Linked DNA regions of Homo sapiens: region 1 is linked to region 2. The links come from fine-mapping of genetic effects on gene expression. A gene starts in region 2. The other region holds a variant in brackets. All regions are shown on one strand. Distances are from middle to middle.

Region 1 (9,359 bases), 78 kb after region 2:
GCCACTGCCCACCCACTTTTAGATGGCCCTAGGGTGATCTAACCATGGTGCTTCTCAAAATTTAAAGTGCCTACGAATTGCCTGGGGACCGTGTTGAAATGCAGCTTCCAACTTGGTCCTGAATTTCTAACAAGCTACTGGGTGCTGTTGCTAGGTCCACATGTTAAGGAGCAAAGGCAAAGAACTTAGCAGTGAGCACAACTCTAATTGGGCTCTTCTTCTGAGGATATTCGGCCATTTTTTCTTCGCTGCTAACGAATAGGTCACTTTGGCTTTGGGACAGATGCAATTCAGAACGGTCATTATGACGTCATTCATATTTGGCTACCCAGGTGACTTATTATTTTAGCATCCTTATCTCTAGAATTAAAAAAATGTAATGTGAGAGGAATTCAGATGAAATGCAAACAGGAATTTCCTATAATAATTACTATTTCCTAATAGTAATTATTTTAAACATCAGCAGAGATTGCAGAAGTTGTAAAAGCTTTGTCAGGAAATCTTCAGTCATAAAATTGACTCTGGTCAGATGTGGCCCTGGTTGAGGCAGGGGACTGTGCTCCCAGCTAACCTAAAACACAACAGCCCACACTCGGGACAGATTAGCATGGCCAAAATATTTACTGTTTGCCTTGTCTAAGCCAACATTTTAGCCCCTCTATACCAAGGCAAGTGTGTGAGAAAAACCTTGATTGTCTCAATGCTTTTTAAAAAATGCCTCCTCAGTTCCTCCACTTTACTCCATCACCTTGGCCATGCCACCATCATCTCTTCCTTTGGCAACTGTCAGCTTTCATACCTTTCTCCCTGCATTCTCTCCCGTAATCTGGTCCTCCACACAGATGCCAAAGCGATCTTTGTAAAAATAAATCCGATCACATCACTCCCCTTCCCACTGGATTTAGGCTTAAGTCCAAAGTCCTAATGTGGCCCTGTGAAGTCCGGCCCCTGCCTCCCTCCTCAGCCTCCTCTTCTGCCTCCCCTGCCCCTTGCTTTTATGCTCCTGCCCCACTGGCCTTTCAGCCTCCAAATGGCCAAGGATTTGTCCCCAAACCTTTCACACTTGCCATTCTTGCTACCTGGAGGCACATCCCCTGCTAACCCTGCTAACTCTTGTTCATCTCCAGGTCTGGGTTGGTTTTTTGTTTTCTGTTTTTTGTTTTTTGTTTTTGTTTTTGTTTTTGTTTTTGTTTTTGTTTTGAGATGGGGTCTGGCTCTGTTGCCCAGGCTGGAGTGCAGTGGCACAGTCTCAGCTCACTGCAGCCTCTGCCTCCCAAGTTCAAGTGATTCTCCCACCTCAGCCTCCCGAGTAGCTGGGATTACAGGGTCATGTCACCACACCTGGCTAATTTTTGCATTTTTGGTAGAGACAGGGTTTCACCATGTTGGCCAGGGTGGTCTTGAACTCCTGACCTCAGGTGATCCACTCACCCTGGCTTCCCAAAGTGATGGGAATATAGGTGTGAGCCACCATGCCTGGCCCAGGTCTGGGTTTAAATGTCACTTCCAAACAGTCCTCCCCTGCCCTCTAATCTAAAATAATCCTTCCCCTAAGATGGTCTTATGAATCCTGTGCTTTTCCTGAATAGCACGTACACAGATGATGGTGCCAGACTGAGCTGTATGGCTATTACAGCTCACTGCAGCCTCTGCCTCCCAAGTTCAAGTGAACTTGGAGCTGTAAGCTCCACGGAGCAGGGGTCACCTCTGTTTTGTAAACCATTGTACACCCAGCATCTAGCACTATGCAAGGCACACAGAGGCTCAGTAAATATTTTTCTAATGAAGGAATGATTGGACCTGCTTCATCTCATCTATTTACTCATTTTGTAACTCAACTGTCTTGGGCCTAACAGACCTGTAGATGCAAACAAGGTCATATTTACAATGATGTCCAGGTTCCAGTAGCTTTAGCCACTGTCTTCGGATTCTCCTCCAGTTAACTTCTGAGAGGCCAAGAGAGGGAGGCTGTTATCTCTCACGTGTTTAGGCACCAGTATACTCACGCTTCCTACTCTGGTTCCAGTGTTCTGTTGCCCCACGCATCCTCTGCTGACAATGCCTTCCCAGATGCTGCGGATCCACTATGCACCACATTTATCTGCTGGTGAATTGACCCAATCCTTCAGGACACCAAATCTGCCCTGCAGTCCACATGACAAGGAGATTGGGGAAGAGGTAGAGGGGAGAATGGCCAGCCTGTGCCCAATTCTGAGAGGCACTGCTTGGACCCTGGCTCCCTCAGCATCTTCCATGAGCACAGCTGGCTCTCTTCTCAGCCGAGCCCTCCCTCCATCAGACAGAACAAGGGATACCAACCCTTCCCTCCGTCTCTCTCTTCTCACTCTTCCCTGTTGCCTCTTTCTCCTTGAGCTCAAAAGAAGGGGAATGTACCTACATGCCATCGTTAGCTCACAGCTAACCTGAAACACAACAGCCCACACTGGGGACTGATTAGCATGGTCAAAATATTTGCTGTTTTCTCAGTCTAAAGTCAACACTTCAGCCTGTCCATACCAAGGCAAGGGTGTCCTCTGCACCACACCATTTGTGCAGTAGATACTACCTAGAAGCCTAGTAGCTGTGCACTCACTTCTATTGTTTTAAGTTTTGCTGTAATTCATTCATTAAGTCAACAAATATTTACAAAGCACCTCTTCAGGGTCAGACACAATCAGCCATCGGGTCCTTCACATTCTCTCAACTCTGTCCCTTCTCTGCACCCATTCCACAGCCACTGCCTTACTTCAAACCTCTCTCACTTCTTTCCCTGATGACTGCAATAGTCTCAGCACTCGTCTCCCTGCCTTTCTGGCTGGCCCCCTGTAATACAGCCTCCAACGCAGTCAGGGAGATCTTATTCGCAGACAGGCTGATGATACCAAGCTCCTGCTCAAATCTTTGGGTTCTCCATAGTCTTCAGGCTGGAGTTTAACCTCCTTAGCTTCGCACTAAAGGCCTTTTGTGATCTGCCTGCTGCCTTGTTCGTTCAGCCACATCTTCTACCTCTCCAGTCCCAAACACTCTTTACTTCAGTCCCTTAGAACTATCTGTGGTTCCCAGAATGAGGCATGTTTTCTAAGACCTCTGGTCTCCTACATTCTGTTCTTTTTGCCTGGAATGCTTTCTCCCACTGTTTTGTCTAGACAAGGGCTGTCTATTAGGACTTTCTGTGATGAGGGAAAAGCTCTGTATCTGCTCCATCCAATGTGGTAGCCACTAGCCACTAGCCACATGTGGCTATTGAATACTTGAAATATGCCTGGTATAAATGACTGAAATTGCCACATGTGGCAAAGAGCTGCCTTATAGGGCAGCGTGGGTCCAGACAACTGTTACTTACTTTGAAATCATTAGCTCAGGGCTCCAGGTCTCCACTGGGAAACCATCCCAATATTATGGTTGATGTAAGTGCCCCCGTTCCCCCACCCCCACTTATGTTCCTGTAGTAACCTTGTTCTCCCTCTATCCCAATACTCAGAACACCATTGTCAGTGATTCACTGATCTGCCTCCTCTGCTAGACCAAATCTTTTTTAGGTCAAAGATATGCAGTGCAGTCAATAAATGGTTGATGCCTAGATGCAGTGACGTGCTGGTAAAGATTTAATAATTGGCTCTCTCTAAGAAGAAGCCCTAACTTGTGGTATTTGCCAATTCTATGGTGTAAACACTCCCACCATATGCCAAGAGAATGAGAAGACAAGTCACAGACCAGGAGAAAATATGTACAGAAGACATATCTGATAAAGGACTATGATACACAAAGAACTCTTAAAACTCAACAATAGGCAGGGCACAGTGGCTCACGCCTGTAATCCCAGCACTTTGGGAGGCCGAGGCAGGTGGATCATGAGGTCAGGAGTTTGAGACCAGCCTGGCCAAGATGGTGAAATCCCGTCTCTACTAAAAATACAAAAATTAGCCGGGTTTGGTGGCGGGCACCTGTAATCCCAGCTACTTGGGAGGCTGATGCAGGAAAATTGTTTGAACCCGGGAGGTGGAGGTTGCAGTGAGCCAAGTTCCTGCCACTTCGCTCTAGCCTGGGCAACAGAGCAAGACTCCATCTCAAAAAAAGAAAGAAAGAAAGAAAGAAAGTAAGAAACAAAAAAAACCAACAACAACAACAAAAAAACTCCACAATTAGAAGATGAACAACCCAATTTAAAAATGGGCAAAAGACATGGACAGCTCATGGAAGAAGATATAGATGGCAAGTGAGGAGATAAAAAGATGCTCAATATCATATGTCATTAGGAAAATACAAATTAAAACAATGAAATATCACCACACACCTATAAGAATGCCCCATATCTATAATACTGACAACACCATATGCTGGTGATGATGTGAAACAACAGGAACTCTCATTCATTGATGGTGGGAAGGCAAAATGGTACAGCTACTTTGGAAGAGAGTTCGACGGTTTCTTGCAAAACTAAACTTACGCTGGTCATAGGATCCAGCATTCACACTCCTTGGTATTTACTGAAAGGTGCTGAAAACATCCACACAAAGACCTGGACATGGATATTTATAGTGGCTTTATTCATAATTGCCAAAACTTAGAAGAAACCAAAATGTCCTACAATAGGTGAATGAATAAATAAACTGTGGTACCTCCAGACAATAGAATAGTATTTAGAAAGAAATAAGCTACCAAGCTATGAAAGATGAAAACCCTTAAATGCATATTATTATTATTATTATTATTATTATTATTATTATTAAGATGGAGTTTCACTCTGTCACCCAGGCTGGAGTGCAGTGGTGTAATCTCAGCTCACTGCAACCTCCACCTCCCTGGTTCAAGCAAATCTCCTGCCTCTGCCTCCCAAGTAGCTGGGATTACAGGCGCCCGTCACCACGCTTGGCTGAATTTTTTTTTTTTTTTTAGTAGAGACGGGGTTTCACCATGTTGGCCAGACTGGTTTTGAACTCCTGACCTAAGGTGATCTGCCCACCTCAGCCTCCCAAAGTGATGGTATTACAGGCATGCGATGCTGCACCCAACCCTTAAATGCATATTACTATGTGAAATAAGCCAATATGAAAAGGCTACACACTGTACCGTTTCAACTACATGGCATGCTGGAAAAGGAAAAACTAGAGAGGCGGTAAAAAGATCAGTGGTTGGAAGGGTTGAGGGTGGGAGGCATGAATACGCAGAGCCCGGAGGATTTTTAGGGCAGTGAAACTCCTCTGTGTGATGCCACAACAATAGACACATGGCATGACACATTTTTCAAAACCCATAGGATGCACAACAGGAAGAGTGAACCCTAATGTAAACTACGCATTTCGGGTGATTATGGTGTGTCAATGTAGGCTCAACAATTGTAACAAATATATCACTCTGCTGGAGGATGTTGACAGTGAGGGAGGCTATGCGTGTGTGGGGACAGGGGGTATTTGGGAACTCCCTGTGTCTTCTGTTCCATTTTGCTGTGATCCTAAAACTGCTGAAAAAAAAAAGTCTACTTAAAAAAGAACAACTCCCACCATGGCAGATTTCAGGCTACCAACATGACATCACTGAATCCAGAGTTGGGAAGAGATGTACACAATTGTTTTTCATGGGCAGATAGGAGCCAGCCCCAGCACACCACCGCATGAGTGAGTGAGTGAATGAGTGAATGAATGAATGAATGAATGAATGAATGAAAGAAATGTGCCAGATGCTGGGAATACCAGGGACGCCATCAGGCTCTTTAGGGAGAAGTCT[A/G]TTCAGACCTGCGAGAGCTGGGCATGCAGCTGCTAGTCGGATTTCAATTCCAACTGAGGAGATAAAGGATCAGGGAGTCCCATCTTTGATTTAGTCAGTAAATCGAAGATATGGGACATTTGTTTTCTTTGGGTGCTTTACCTTTAATACCAAGACTTGTCAAGGCATCTCTATTAAGTGGCCCACTCAGACAAGTGCAAAGTGAGTGAGCTGGAGGCGAAAAAAACAGAGGCCTGACCAAAAGGCTCTAGAGCAACAAGAGGCTCATGATTTCCCATCACAAGAAGTCCAGAGACAAGACAGCCATTGGCTGGCTTAACACAATGGCCCAACAATGCATCAGTGATGTCTCTGAGCATCAGTGGTGTCTCTTCTCAGTGGCTTACAGCTCCAGACATCACATGCAGACGTGACAATGTCTAATGGAGAAGGGGCACATTCTCTCCCAATTCTACTCAATGAGAAACCCTTTCCTTCCTGGAGGTCCTTCAGCGGCCATTCACACAGATCCCACTGGCAAGACTGGATCCCATGCTGTTCTTACACCAGCCATTTCCAAGAGAATGAGGCCACCATAACTGGCTTAGGCCAATTGGTAGGACCCTTCAGGAGGCAGAACCTGGGAACCTAGGCAGGGCTCTGCCCACAGGAAGAAGCAGGTGAGCGTGTGGGGGTGGCGGATGGTTGTCAAAACCCAATATACAGGGAACATTACAGGAAGAGTCACTTACTTTACAATCATGTCATTTCATAAACATTTCTTGACATAATTAGGGAACAAGAGGCAGCATGAAGGAGCACAGCTTCCCTGCCATTCCCCCCGCCACAGTGAGACGCCTGCAAGGACACAGACACAGCCTTTCCATCAGCCTTCCTCTGTGGATCCCCCATCCACACTGAGCCAGCAGGTCAATGGGGACAGGTTCCATGCTGTTCAGAGAAACCAGCACTGTACACAGTGGGGCCCTGCATCCACTGCAGGGGTGGACGCCTCAGCCAGCCCAGGACTGTGCCGTCATCCCTGAGACTCACTGATCCTGATGTGAGACTCTCCCCGACAGGGGCTTCCAGGCATGGCTCTATGCAGGGTCATTTGTGGCCACACTATGACGTGGGCGATCCCATTTCTACACATCTAAATTCCCCAGGGCAGGCAGCATGTGGTATCTCACTCCCTCGGCTCTAACCTGGTTATGGGAAGTTGCTAGGTAACTGCTTCCCACACTGGAGGAGGCTTAGTTACCATGGAAAGTCCAGATGGGTGGGGGGGCACAGAGGAAGGGAGCACTGGCTGGGGGGTCTGCAGCTGGGATTCTGTCCCCACTCTCTCCTGAGCCCCTGGACCTAAGGGGAGTCTCTCAACCCCTCTGGGCCTCAGTTTCCTCCTAGTAAAATGAAGGAAAGGCTGGGTCACTTCTTGCTCTAAACCACTGATGCATGTGGATGGCATACCCTCAGTGAGCACTGATCCTCAGACACCTCTTCGGCAAGGAGTGACTCAAGATGGGTGCAGAAAAGGAATGCATTAAGTTTATGTCTTAGCCTGGGCAACATAGCAAGACTCTGTCTCTACAAAAAACATTTTTTTTTTTTTTGAGACAGAGTTTCACTCTGTCACCGAGGCTGGAGTACAGTGACGTGATCTCCACTCGCTGCAACCTCCGCCTCCCGGGTTCAAGCGATTCTCATGCCTCAGCCTCCCTAGTAGCTGGGATTACAAGCATGTGCCACCACACCCAGCTAATTTTTGTATTTTTAGTAGAGACAGGTTTCACCATGTTGGCCAGGCTGGTCTCGAACTCCTGACCTCAAGTGATCTGCCTGCCTCAGCCTCCCAAAGTCCTGAGATTACAGGCATGAGCCACAGCGCCCGGCCCTCAATTTTTTTTTTTTAAATTAGCTAGGTGTGGTACATACAGGCACCTGCCTGTAGTCCCAGCTACTCCAGACGCAGAGGTAGTAGGATCACTCGAGCTCAGGAGTTTGAGACTGCAGTGAGCTATGATTGTGCCACCACACTCAGCCTGAGTGACAGAGCAAGACCCTATCTTAAAAAACAAAAACAAAACAAAACAAAACAAAAGGCCAGGCGTGGTGGCTCATGCCTGTAATCCCAGCACTTTGGGAGGCTGAGGCAGGCAGATCATGAGGTCAGGAATTTGAGACCAGCCTGACCAACACGGTGAAACCCCATCTCTACTAAAAATACAAAAATTAGCTGGGCGTGGTGGCACACGCCTGTAATCCCAACTACTCAGGAGGCTGAGGCAGGAGAATCCCTTGAACCTGGGAGGCAGAGGTTGCAGTGAACCGAGATTGCACCACTGCACTCCAGCCTGGGCGACAGACCGAGACTCTGTCTAAAAAAACAAAAACAAAAAAGTTTTTTCTTTAAAAAAATAGAGAAACTAGCAAGCTTGTGTCTCTATTAGGATAAATAAAAGCTATAGGCCAGGCGCAGTGGCTCACACCTGTAATCCCAGCACTTTGGGAGGCCGAGGCGGGTAGATCCCCTGAGGTCAGGAGTTCAAGACCAGCTTGGCCAACATGGTGAAGTCCCGTCTCTACTAAAAATGCAAAAATTGGCTGGGCATGGTGGCTCATGCCTATAATCCCAGCACTTTGGGAGGCTGAGGTAGGTGGATCACCTGAGGTCAGGAGTTTGAGACCAGCCTGGCCAACATGATGAAACCCGTCTCTACTAAAAATGTGAAAATTAGCTGGGCATGGTGGCGGGCGCCTGTAATCCCAGCTACTTGGAAGGCTGAGGCAGGAGAATCACTTGAATCCAGGAGATGGAGGTTGCAGTGAGCTGAGATCACACCATTGCACTCCAGCCTGGTCAACGAGAGTGAAACTTCATCCCAAAACAAAACAAAACAAAGCAAAAATTAGCCGGGCATGGTGGTGGGCCCCTGTAATCCCAGCTACCCTGGAGGCTGAGGTGGGAGAATTGCTTGAACCTGGGAGGTGGAGGCTGCAAGGAGTCGAGATGGCGCCACTGCACTCCAGCCTGGGCGACAGAGCAAGACCCTGTCTAAAAAAAAAAAAAAAAAAAAAAAAAAAAAAAAAAAAAAAAAAAAAAAAATTGGCCGGGCGCAGTGGCTCACACCTGTAATCCCAGTACTTTGGGAGGTCAAGGCAGGCGGATCACCTAAAGTCAGGAGTTCAAGACCAGCCTGACCAAGATGGTGAAACCCTGTCTCTACTAAAAATACAAAAATTAGCCAGGCATGGTGGGGGGCACCTGTAATCCCAACTACTTGGGAGGCTGAGACAGGAGAATTGCTTGAACCTGGGAGGTGGAGATTGCAGTGAGCCGAGATCGTGCCACTGCACTCCAGCCTGGGCAACAGAGCAAGATTGCACCTCAAAAAAAAAAAAAAAGTTATAGAGATTCTCCCTTCTGCTAGGAGAAATTTCACTTCTGACATCAATATTCACAAGTCCTGGGGCTCCCTAGGTCCTCTTCTGAACCGAGGCTTCCTAAAAAAAAAACTTAGGATGCAATGTGTGTCCCTAAAACACCCAGCTTGCTAAAGCATGATGTCCTTTCAGACAGGGTCTCCCAGTTCTTGGGCTCTGCTGGTCCTTCTGCCCCAGATGGAGCCATGGCACAGGCCCAGCCCTCTCTA
Region 2 (9,359 bases):
TTATGTTTGGAGAAGGTCAGAGATTCCAATTTTTTATTTTTAAATTCATTCATTTTCTCCTTTTAAAATCTCTGTGTGTGCTCAAAGAGTAGATTGGAAGCAGAGGAACTGGAAGAAGAACAGAATGTTCTGATAGTTCAGGCAATAAGTGATGAAGGCCATAACTAAGGCAGAGGTCATGGGCATAGTGTGAATCTCCACTCTGTTCACTCTCCTCACACATATACTTTTACATGTAATGTTAAAGTGTAGCAGTTATGGGATCGGGCTCTGAATATATGTGGCAATGAGAGAGAAGGAGGAGTCTACAGGGACTAAGTTTCTTTTTGGGGTGACCAAGTAAATGACTGTTGCTGTTCACCAAGATGAACATGATCCGAGGGGTCAGTTTGGCAGGAAAGCTGGGGAATTCTGCTTCGGACATTTTGAATCTGAGCAACAGGTGGGAGATGTTCAGGGGACAGTTGAATAGAGATAACTGAAAGAAGAGGGTTTGGGGCTAGGTTCATAGACTTCAGAGTAGTCAGCATATAGAAGGTGATTGAGGAGGCAGATGGGAAGTAGGAGACAGGGTAAGATTAAAGACTGAAGTCCCAATAAACAGTGAGGGAGTTGGTTAGGCTTGGCAAAAGTGTCAAGTGTTACCAGCTTAGTGGAATTAACCCTGTTCAAGTGACAATATGTAAGGGGTCCTTCTTATCTGCTTTCCTCCATTTGGGGGCACAATTTAGTTGCAATACCGTAACATCCACTAAATACAAATATTGCTCTATGGTAGCTTGGTTGGTTTTCTCCTTTAATTTTTTGAACTTGAGGTTCTATAAAAGTGAACACAGTTTGCTTCACCTGACTTCCCGGACACCATTTCTCCTTCTCATCTCCTTGACTCATCCGTTCTCAATTCTATGACCTCTCAACTTTGAAGGAGCCCATTCTCTAACCTCTTGTCTTCTCTATCTATATTCACTCCACAGGTAGTGTTATCCACTTGCAAAGCGGTAAATACTCTTCGATTCTGACAACTCTCAAGGTTTTCTCTTCAGCTTCTCCTGACCTCCAAACTCGTGTATCTAACTACCTTGACCTCTACTCCTGGTCTTGCCTTCCAAACCTTCTCTCCCACGGTCTCTCCTGTCTCAGTAAATGACACATCCTTGCTTCTAGGTTCTCAGGCCATGAACCTGGGAGTCACCTTAACTCCTGTGTTTGTCTCTTATAGCTCTCATGATATCCATGAGCTTACCTTTGAAATACAAGGTGGCTACCCAGTCTAGATAATAAATGATTTATTGATGCTACATTCTAATACAAGATACAATAACATTATCTATGTTTCTAGACTTTATGATCACCCTGTATATTCAAAATCCAACCACTTCCCACCACTCACATCATCCTGTTTTAAGCCACAACCATCTCTGGTCTGGACTATGAAAGTAGCCTCTTTTTTTTTTTTTTTTTTTTTGAGATGGAGTTTTGCTCTTATTGCCCAGGCTGGAGTGCAATGGCGCAATCTCGGCTCACTGCAACCTCCGCCTCCCGGGTTCAAGCGATTCTTCTGCCTCAGCCTCCCTAGTAGCTGGGATTACAGGCATGCGCCACCATGCCTGGCTAATTTTGTATTTTTAGTAGAAATTGGGTTTCTCCATGTTGATCAGGATGGTCTCAAACTCCCGACCTCAGGTGATCCATCCGCCTCAGTCTCCCAAAGTGCTGGGATTACAGGCATGAGCCAACCATGCCTGGCCAACAGTAGGCTCCTAACTGGTCTCTCTTCTTCTGTTCTTGCTCCCTTGCTATCTAATTTCAGCACAACAGCCAGAGCTACCCTTTTAAAACTTAAAACCCAAGTCAGATCATACTACTCCCCAGTTCAAAATCTTCCATTGGCTTCCATCTCACTCAGAGTAAAATCCAAAGGCCTCGCCATGGCAACAAGGCCCTACATGTTCTGCTCTCTCTCTGATCTCCATCCCAACTCCTCTCCACCTCACTCACAGTGTTAAACATGTCTCCACCTGAAGTCTTTGCACTTGCTAGTCCCTATACCTGCAAAAGCTATTTCCCCAGATGTCCATCCAGGAAGTACTGGCTTCTTCACTTTGTTCTAGACTTTGCTCAAATGTCCTTTGATTTCCCAACGTAAAATCGCAACCCCCATCTCAGCCACACTCCCTGTGGCTCTTGCATCATTTTATTTTTCTCCCTAACAGTAGGACCATCTGATGTACCTTCTGTTTCTCCCTTTACCAGAATGTAAGATCCAGGAGGGCAGAGATTATGTTTTGTTCACTGATAGTTTTCCAGCACCTAGAACAGGACTAACACAGAGTAGGTGTTCAAACTTTATTTATTGAATAAATGAAACGAGAATGTCTGAATGCACACTATTAAATAAGAAGTACATATTTTACCATAAAGTTAAATTGAGCATAATTATGGCAAGAAGTTCAGATATTGGCCAGGCGCAGTGGCTCATGCCTGTAATCCCAGCACTTTGGGGGGCCAAGGTGGGCAGATCACCTGAGGTCAGGAGTTCGAGACCAGCCTGACCAACATGGCGAAACCTCAGCTGTCCTAAAAATATACAAATTAGCTGGGTGTGGTGGCAGGTGCCTGCAATCCCAGCTACTCGGGAGGCTGAGGCAGGAGAATCATTTGAACTTAGGAGGTGGAGGTTGCAGTGAGCCAAGATTGCGTCACTGTACTCTAGCCTGGGCAACCGAGCGAGACTCAGTCTCCAAAAAACAAAATAAAACAAAAAACAAAACAAAACAGAAGTTCAGATATAAACAAATGACCCCTCAAAAGGAATTGATTAAAAAAATTTTAAACAAAGTATGGTTTAAAAAAGAAACTTCTCCACTGTGGCTAAGTCCATATTTCACATGTTACTGTATCCTCCTCATCTTGCTGCTATTTTTCTGAGTATCTCATGATAGTGAGTACTGAAATGCTGGCATTCTCACATTAGGGTCTTTATTCTTAGGATCTGCCTTTGCACTCGTTCAGTTACAGAGCTGTTATGAAATAAACCACTCAAGTGGCCTTGCTTCCCTCCCACTATGCTCTACATAACATGTCTGTCAATCAGTACTTACTACCAAAATAACTTGCCTTTGAGATTTTTCTGTTCTGCAATCTGTCCCATGCTTGTAAGGGGAAGGATTATATTCTGCTCCCTGGGGAGTAGTGCCTGGTGCAAAATTAGCTTCCTCATTAGGGTACAAGCTGAAAACACCATGATACTTTCCATGTAACACCATTCAACATTTTCCCTTCGCTCCCACTCCCCAACCATAGAATTTTAGGGACTCCTTTAACCATTTCAAAACCATCGACTTGGGAGCTATCAAAGAATAAGGACTGTAGCCAGAGGATTTCAGCATTTAAAAACTTGGCAATAGAGCTGTTCAGTGTAATGATCCAAGAAGGTCCTTAGAAGGCTGAATAATTCTGAGGTCAAGGTTGAGACGTTATTATTTTTAAAGTAGCAAGATGTTGTTATTTTTAAATTTTATCTTTATAATGTGGAAATAGCAGAGATCCTTTTCAGATATAACCAGGATTTAAGAAAATTTGACAAAGTTGCATTAATAAAAAGAAAGCCTGTTATTAAGGAGCTACAGGGCCGGGTGCGGTGGCTCATGCCTGTAATCCCAGCACTTTGGGAGGTTGAGGCGGGCGGATCATCTGAGTTCAGGAGTTCAAGACCAGCCTGGCCGACATGGTGAAACCCCATCTCTACTAAAAATACAAAAAAAATTAGCCAGGCATGGTGGCAGGTACCTGTAATCCCAGCTACTTGGGAGGCTGAAGCAAGAGAATCACTTGTACTCGGGAGACGGAGGTTGCAGTGAGCCAAGATCATGCCATTGCACTCCAGCCTGGGCAAGAAGAGTGAAACTCCGTCTCAAAAAAAAAAAGGAGTTATGGATAGAAAATTACTTCCTTTAACTCATTCGACAAATATTTACTGAGCATTTTCTGTCACCTTGACACTTTGCTGATTCTTCTTTTCTATTTCAATAAAAATGTTGGGCAATTATAACCAAGGAAAAGGTTTTAAGAAAGTAAATTTTAAGCAAGGTTTAGATATAAAGAAGCAAAGAGATGGAAAAGGATGCCGTTTCACATTGCAGAAAAAGTTTAAATTTTAGAACCCCAAATTGAATCTCTCCTTGACACTCTCCTCTTGGTATTCCAGGGATTAATGCTAGGAACATCCCAGTGAGCCAACATTTCCCTCCTCATCTTGGATCCAGTCCCCAAACTCTGAATGGTGCCACTTAGCAAGTAGCAATGTCTCTAATTTTCTGTAAAAGATGCAACGTTGGCAATCCATTTTCTAGCAAGAGCAAAGAGAAAGGAAGAGGCCTTCACAAGTTGCAGTTGATATAGGGGGAAGGGTGAGTGGTACATTTAAAGGTAAGAACTAAGGAAGTTGAAGGTAACAAAACTCAAGGTCAATGGAAAGTCTTAAATCCCAGAAAGCCTTCAGTCTAAGACTCAACAGAAATTGAAGTCCCAGAAATTGAAGGAACTGGTTCCACCTCATGCTGGACTGTGGCAAACCTGGGGTGAGAATGCATCCCAGCTCAGAATGTTTCTTCTTTTTTTGTCAAGAGTAATATTAGAGGCTGAGTGTATGAACAAAGCATCTTTCCTGGGATTTTAACATTGTGAGTGATCGAGGGTGCTCTTAAATAAGTTCCCCCAAGAAGCCCTAATGTTCCTCTGGATGCATGATTATACTAAGAGAATAAGAGTTTTCCTTAAGATCAGCTTGCTGATGGACCATATCAAGAACTATAAATTTTCTTATGTGAACACAAGTGTTCAGGGGGGATATTGTTAAAACTGAAACCAAGCATAAAGAAGCAAAAGTGTTTCAGTGAACCTCCTGCATTTTAGTTCAACTCTGGCAGCAAGAAAACAAAACCACATAATCTAAGGCTCACGCCCAACTCTCCGAAGCCCCATATGTGCTAGTTCCTGTGTGGTTTGCCTACAGACTGCAGGGCTGACTAGGGTTAGTTTGGAGGAGGGAGTAAGAGGTGGGGAGGAGGAGGCACAGTTAATGGATCTGTAAACTTGCACCCTCTTTCAGAGTGGTACATGGAAGACAGCACAAAGTGGATCCATACTCTGAAATGCAGTAACTCTGATGCTTGAATTTGTCTCCCTTCTTGCCAGAAAGGATTCTAATAACTCGGTGTCAAAGCCAAGACATAAACTCAACCCCTTCTCTTCCAAAAGGTATGTCATTATACAACATCTGTACATATACTCTAGAAACTTTGAACAGTTTTATAATTTGCAGAATGTTCTGTATGAGTTAATTAAAATGAATCTCACTAGTTCTCTAAATATTGCTTTTAAGTCCCATCAGCTAAGGTCTCTAAACCTTTTGCTGTGACAATGTTTGTGGTGATGGGATTTGACTTCTATCAAATGAACTGGGAGAACACTTGTTCCTTACCCAGTCCATAACACAAAAATCTCCACAAACTGGCTTCAGAAGCATCTCAGGGAAAGATTTTCGACCTTGGGATCATGGAGGTAAAATTCCACTTCACCATGGTCAGAATTTAATCCAAATTGGAAGGGATTGGAGGGGGTGGTAGAGGGCTGAGCAGTGATGAATGAACACTAGCACTCTGAGGTCAGGATTTCTCTCTTTGCTTGAATTTCTAGTTCTGTTCGCATTTTTGTTACCTGTACAAAGGACACCAGTTTTCATTCCTTTACGAAAAGAAAACTTTATGTTGAAGTGTATTTTGGAAGGGTATTGTCTCTCTTCGTACTAGCCGTTAGGCTCCATCCCTATGACTGTCTCTGGTTTAGGCGTCCAGTCTGAAGATAGCTGCTTTGTGTTCTTTGTCCCAACTCTTCCTGAACGTGAGGATTGAACATACCAACCAAAGGTTTCACTAATTTAAAATGTACTGTATTGCCCTGACAGGTATACTGTCAAAAAAAATTTACCGTATTTATCTACCTGGAATTAGGCCTTCTTAATAAAGTGTATGCAGCATAATTTGCACACTATTGAACATACACATCCCTAGATAAACTAGGAGTGGGAAGTGTTTTAGATCTAAACATCCAATGGGAAAAATTTCGTGTGTTCTCGTTATGTTATCTGAGGATGGGAAACTTCAGGTCGCAGAATCTTTTGTTCTATGCAGCAATGTTTGTCATAAACGGTTTAGTTCTTTAGTGGCTCCTTTTTGTTTCTTATTTTTGGTTTCGGAAAGAGTATTTAGCAGAAGTTACTCTCCTTTAACAATCCAGTATTTTATGTAAAACTTTATAGAATAATTTTATAGTGATTCTCTTTACAAAACCATCTGCTATTAAATAAGGAACACTGTGTAAATAGAGGACCACCTAAGTATATTTAATTTTCAAATACGAAAAAAATCTGACTCATACCCTTTTTTGTTTTTTTGTAAAAGAGAGGTGGCCCTATATTATTGAATAAAACTGCTTTTTTAGATTGAACTTGGAGTGTCTCCCATGTGGTAAACTGAAATCTTATTCTCCCCAAATTGTAATAGATTTTATCTTTTTAAAAATGACTTTACTGAAGCAGAGGAGAAGGAGATGATCAATCTATTCAATATGAAGAAATATCTCTGTTGCTAATACAATATCCTTTTGAATATCTCCCACATCTTAGGCCCTGGTGAAAATCCCTTTCAATTGTTCTGTCTACCTCGTAGGGATGTTGTAAGAATAAATGAGTTAACATAGATATGAAGTGCCTTAGGAAAAAGGCTCTATAAAAATGCAAGGCGATATCATGATTAGTTGTTTCTTTGACTCTTGATCATTTTCTTCCCACTTCTTATACAAAATGTCTCTCACTTATTTCCTGAAGCCATCTCTTTTAGAACTATTGCTTCCTAGAAGAGCTGAAAATGATCCTAGTTCCAACATATTTATTGATTCCCAGATAATAACACCCACTGGTGTTGATGACTGACAGGGTTCATGCCTAAGCTTGAGTAGAACTTGCCCTTTTTTCCTGGGTCAAGAAAAGTCTGCAATTGTTCGAAAATGTGTCAGTAAGTGTGATTCCATCACGATTTCTTAAATAAGTAACAGTTGCTGCTGGATAATCCTGGGGGCAGATGATTCATTTTTGTGCCCCTATCAAACAAACTCAAAACTTGTTAAAGAATCTTTATAAGTTGTTTGAATCAAACAATAGGGTCGCTAGGTCCCCATTTTGTCCATTTGAGGTATTTGCCCAGCATACCTTGGTCTGTAAAGAAATAGCACAGCCTTGGCTGGGCGCGGTGGCTCATGCTTATAATCCTAGCACTTTGGGAGGCCGAGGTGGGCAGATCTCCAAAAATAAATAATAATAATGATAATAACACAGCCTCATGAGTCTTTTTTTTTTTTTTTTTTTTGAGACAGGGTCTCACTCTGTCACTCAGGCTGGAGTACAGTGGCACAATCACAGCTCACTGCAGCCTCAACTACCCTGGGTTTAGTGATCCTCCCACCTCAGCCTCTCAAGTAGCTGAGACTACAGGTACACACCACCACACCTGGCTAATATTGTATTTTTAGTAGAGACAGGGTTTTGCCATGTTTCCCAGGCTGGTCTTGAACTCCTGAACTCAAGCGATTCGCCTGCCTCAGCCTCCCAAAGTGTTGGGATTACAGGTGTGAACCACTACACCTGGCCTGCCCTTTCTTTTCTCTTAAAAATTCTTAAGAAAGCATGGTCCTGTTTAACAAATAAGCATTTTACAAACATTTATCGATCAATTACTATATGCCAGGCCTGGCACTAGGCACCAAGTCCTCTTCAACAGTGTTAACATTAAGTTTCAATAAACTTGAGTCAGTAGGAATTCAGTAAATAATTTTTAAAGATTGTTTTCTTTTTAAATATGTATTTATAAACAAAAATTTTAGAGAATTAAAAGAAACTATCACGAAGTGCATGATGATAAAAGTCTTATATACTCTCCAAAGAAAATGTTAAGACATACCTTAAGGAGATAGTGAAGAACAGCCGGGCACAGTGGCTCACACCTGTAATCCCAGCACTTGGGCGGCCAAAGCAGGCAGATCATCTGAGGTCAGGAGTTGGAGACAAGCCTGGCCAACATGTTGAAACCCTGTCTCTACCAAAATACAAAAATTAGCCGGGCATGATGGCAGGCGCCTGTAATCCCAGCTACTTGGGAGACTGAGGCACGAGAATTGCTTGAACCCGGGAGGCAGATGTTTCAGCGAGCTGAGATCGTGCCACTGCACTCCAGCCTGGTCGACAGAGCAAGATCCTGTCTCAAAAAGAGGAAAAAAGAAAAGAAAAGAAAAGATAGTGAGAAAATAACTGAACATAAAACATAAAGAAAAGTTGAAATATTAGTACTCACTACCTAGGTTCAACAATTGCTAACTCTTTGCCGTATTTGCTCCATCTATACCTATTTCTTTCTGAATTACTTGTAAGTTGCAGATAAAATAATACTTCACTCCTAAATAATTCAGTACTCATCTAAGAATAAAGGCATTCCTCTATCTAACCACAATTCCATCATTAGGCCTAAGAGGATAAACAGTAAGTCCTTAATATCATCTGATAGCTAGTGCAGATTTAACCTTCCCCATTTGTCCCCCAAATGTCTTCTATACCATTTTTTAAAAAAAGAATCTAATTTTTAAAAATAAGAACATATTTTGCAGTTGGGTCTCATGCTTCTTTCTTCAACATTGGATGTTTTTAAAGATTACGCCAGTTCTCTTGTACCAGGTCCCACTTTCTGAATTCGTTGTTGCCTCATGGTTAATTTGTTCCTCTACCCACTTTATTTCTCATAAGCTCCAAGTTAGGACTAAAAGCATGATTTGATTTTGATTGAACGTTTTTTGCAAGGTGCCACTGGGTGCTCCATATTGCATCTTATCAGGAGGTACAGAATGCCAGGTTGTTCCACTGTGCATGATGCCAAGTTTGATCAGGGCTTGAGGTAGTGATCTTGCTCAGAGGATCTCTTGTTGTACAGGCACTTTTTCACCCTTTGCAATTAGCGAGTACTCTCAGGGGGTATCTCAAAGTGTATCTCATAAACACTTTGGCATGGTGGCAATATCCTATTTCCCAACAAACTCTCACCCGGTGACTTTAGGTAATAATCTTTGCCTAAATTGATTATTTCATTGGAGTTCATATATATTTTTAATACGCTTTGAAGATGGACTCGACATGCAAATTCATCATTATCAGCAGCAATAGTGGCTGGAAATATTTATTGAGTGCATAAGTTCAGGTAATAATAATAATAGTAGGTAATGTTTATTGAGTGCTTGCTGTGGAGCCAAGACAGCCT

The links.
Region 1: its variant is fine-mapped to the expression of GRAP2 in whole blood (INTERVAL, PIP above 0.99).

Annotation. Positions count from the first base shown.
Region 1 is chr22:39,973,975-39,983,333 of GRCh38, forward strand. No RefSeq gene overlaps it. Among named protein-coding and RNA genes, the nearest start is that of FAM83F, 16 kb to the right of the region's middle. The variant A/G (reference allele first, on the strand shown) is at 5,725.
Region 2 is chr22:39,896,072-39,905,430 of GRCh38, forward strand. GRAP2 (GRB2 related adaptor protein 2) reads left to right here and starts at 5,013. Exons shown (of 8, transcript NM_004810.4): 1 at 5,013-5,259.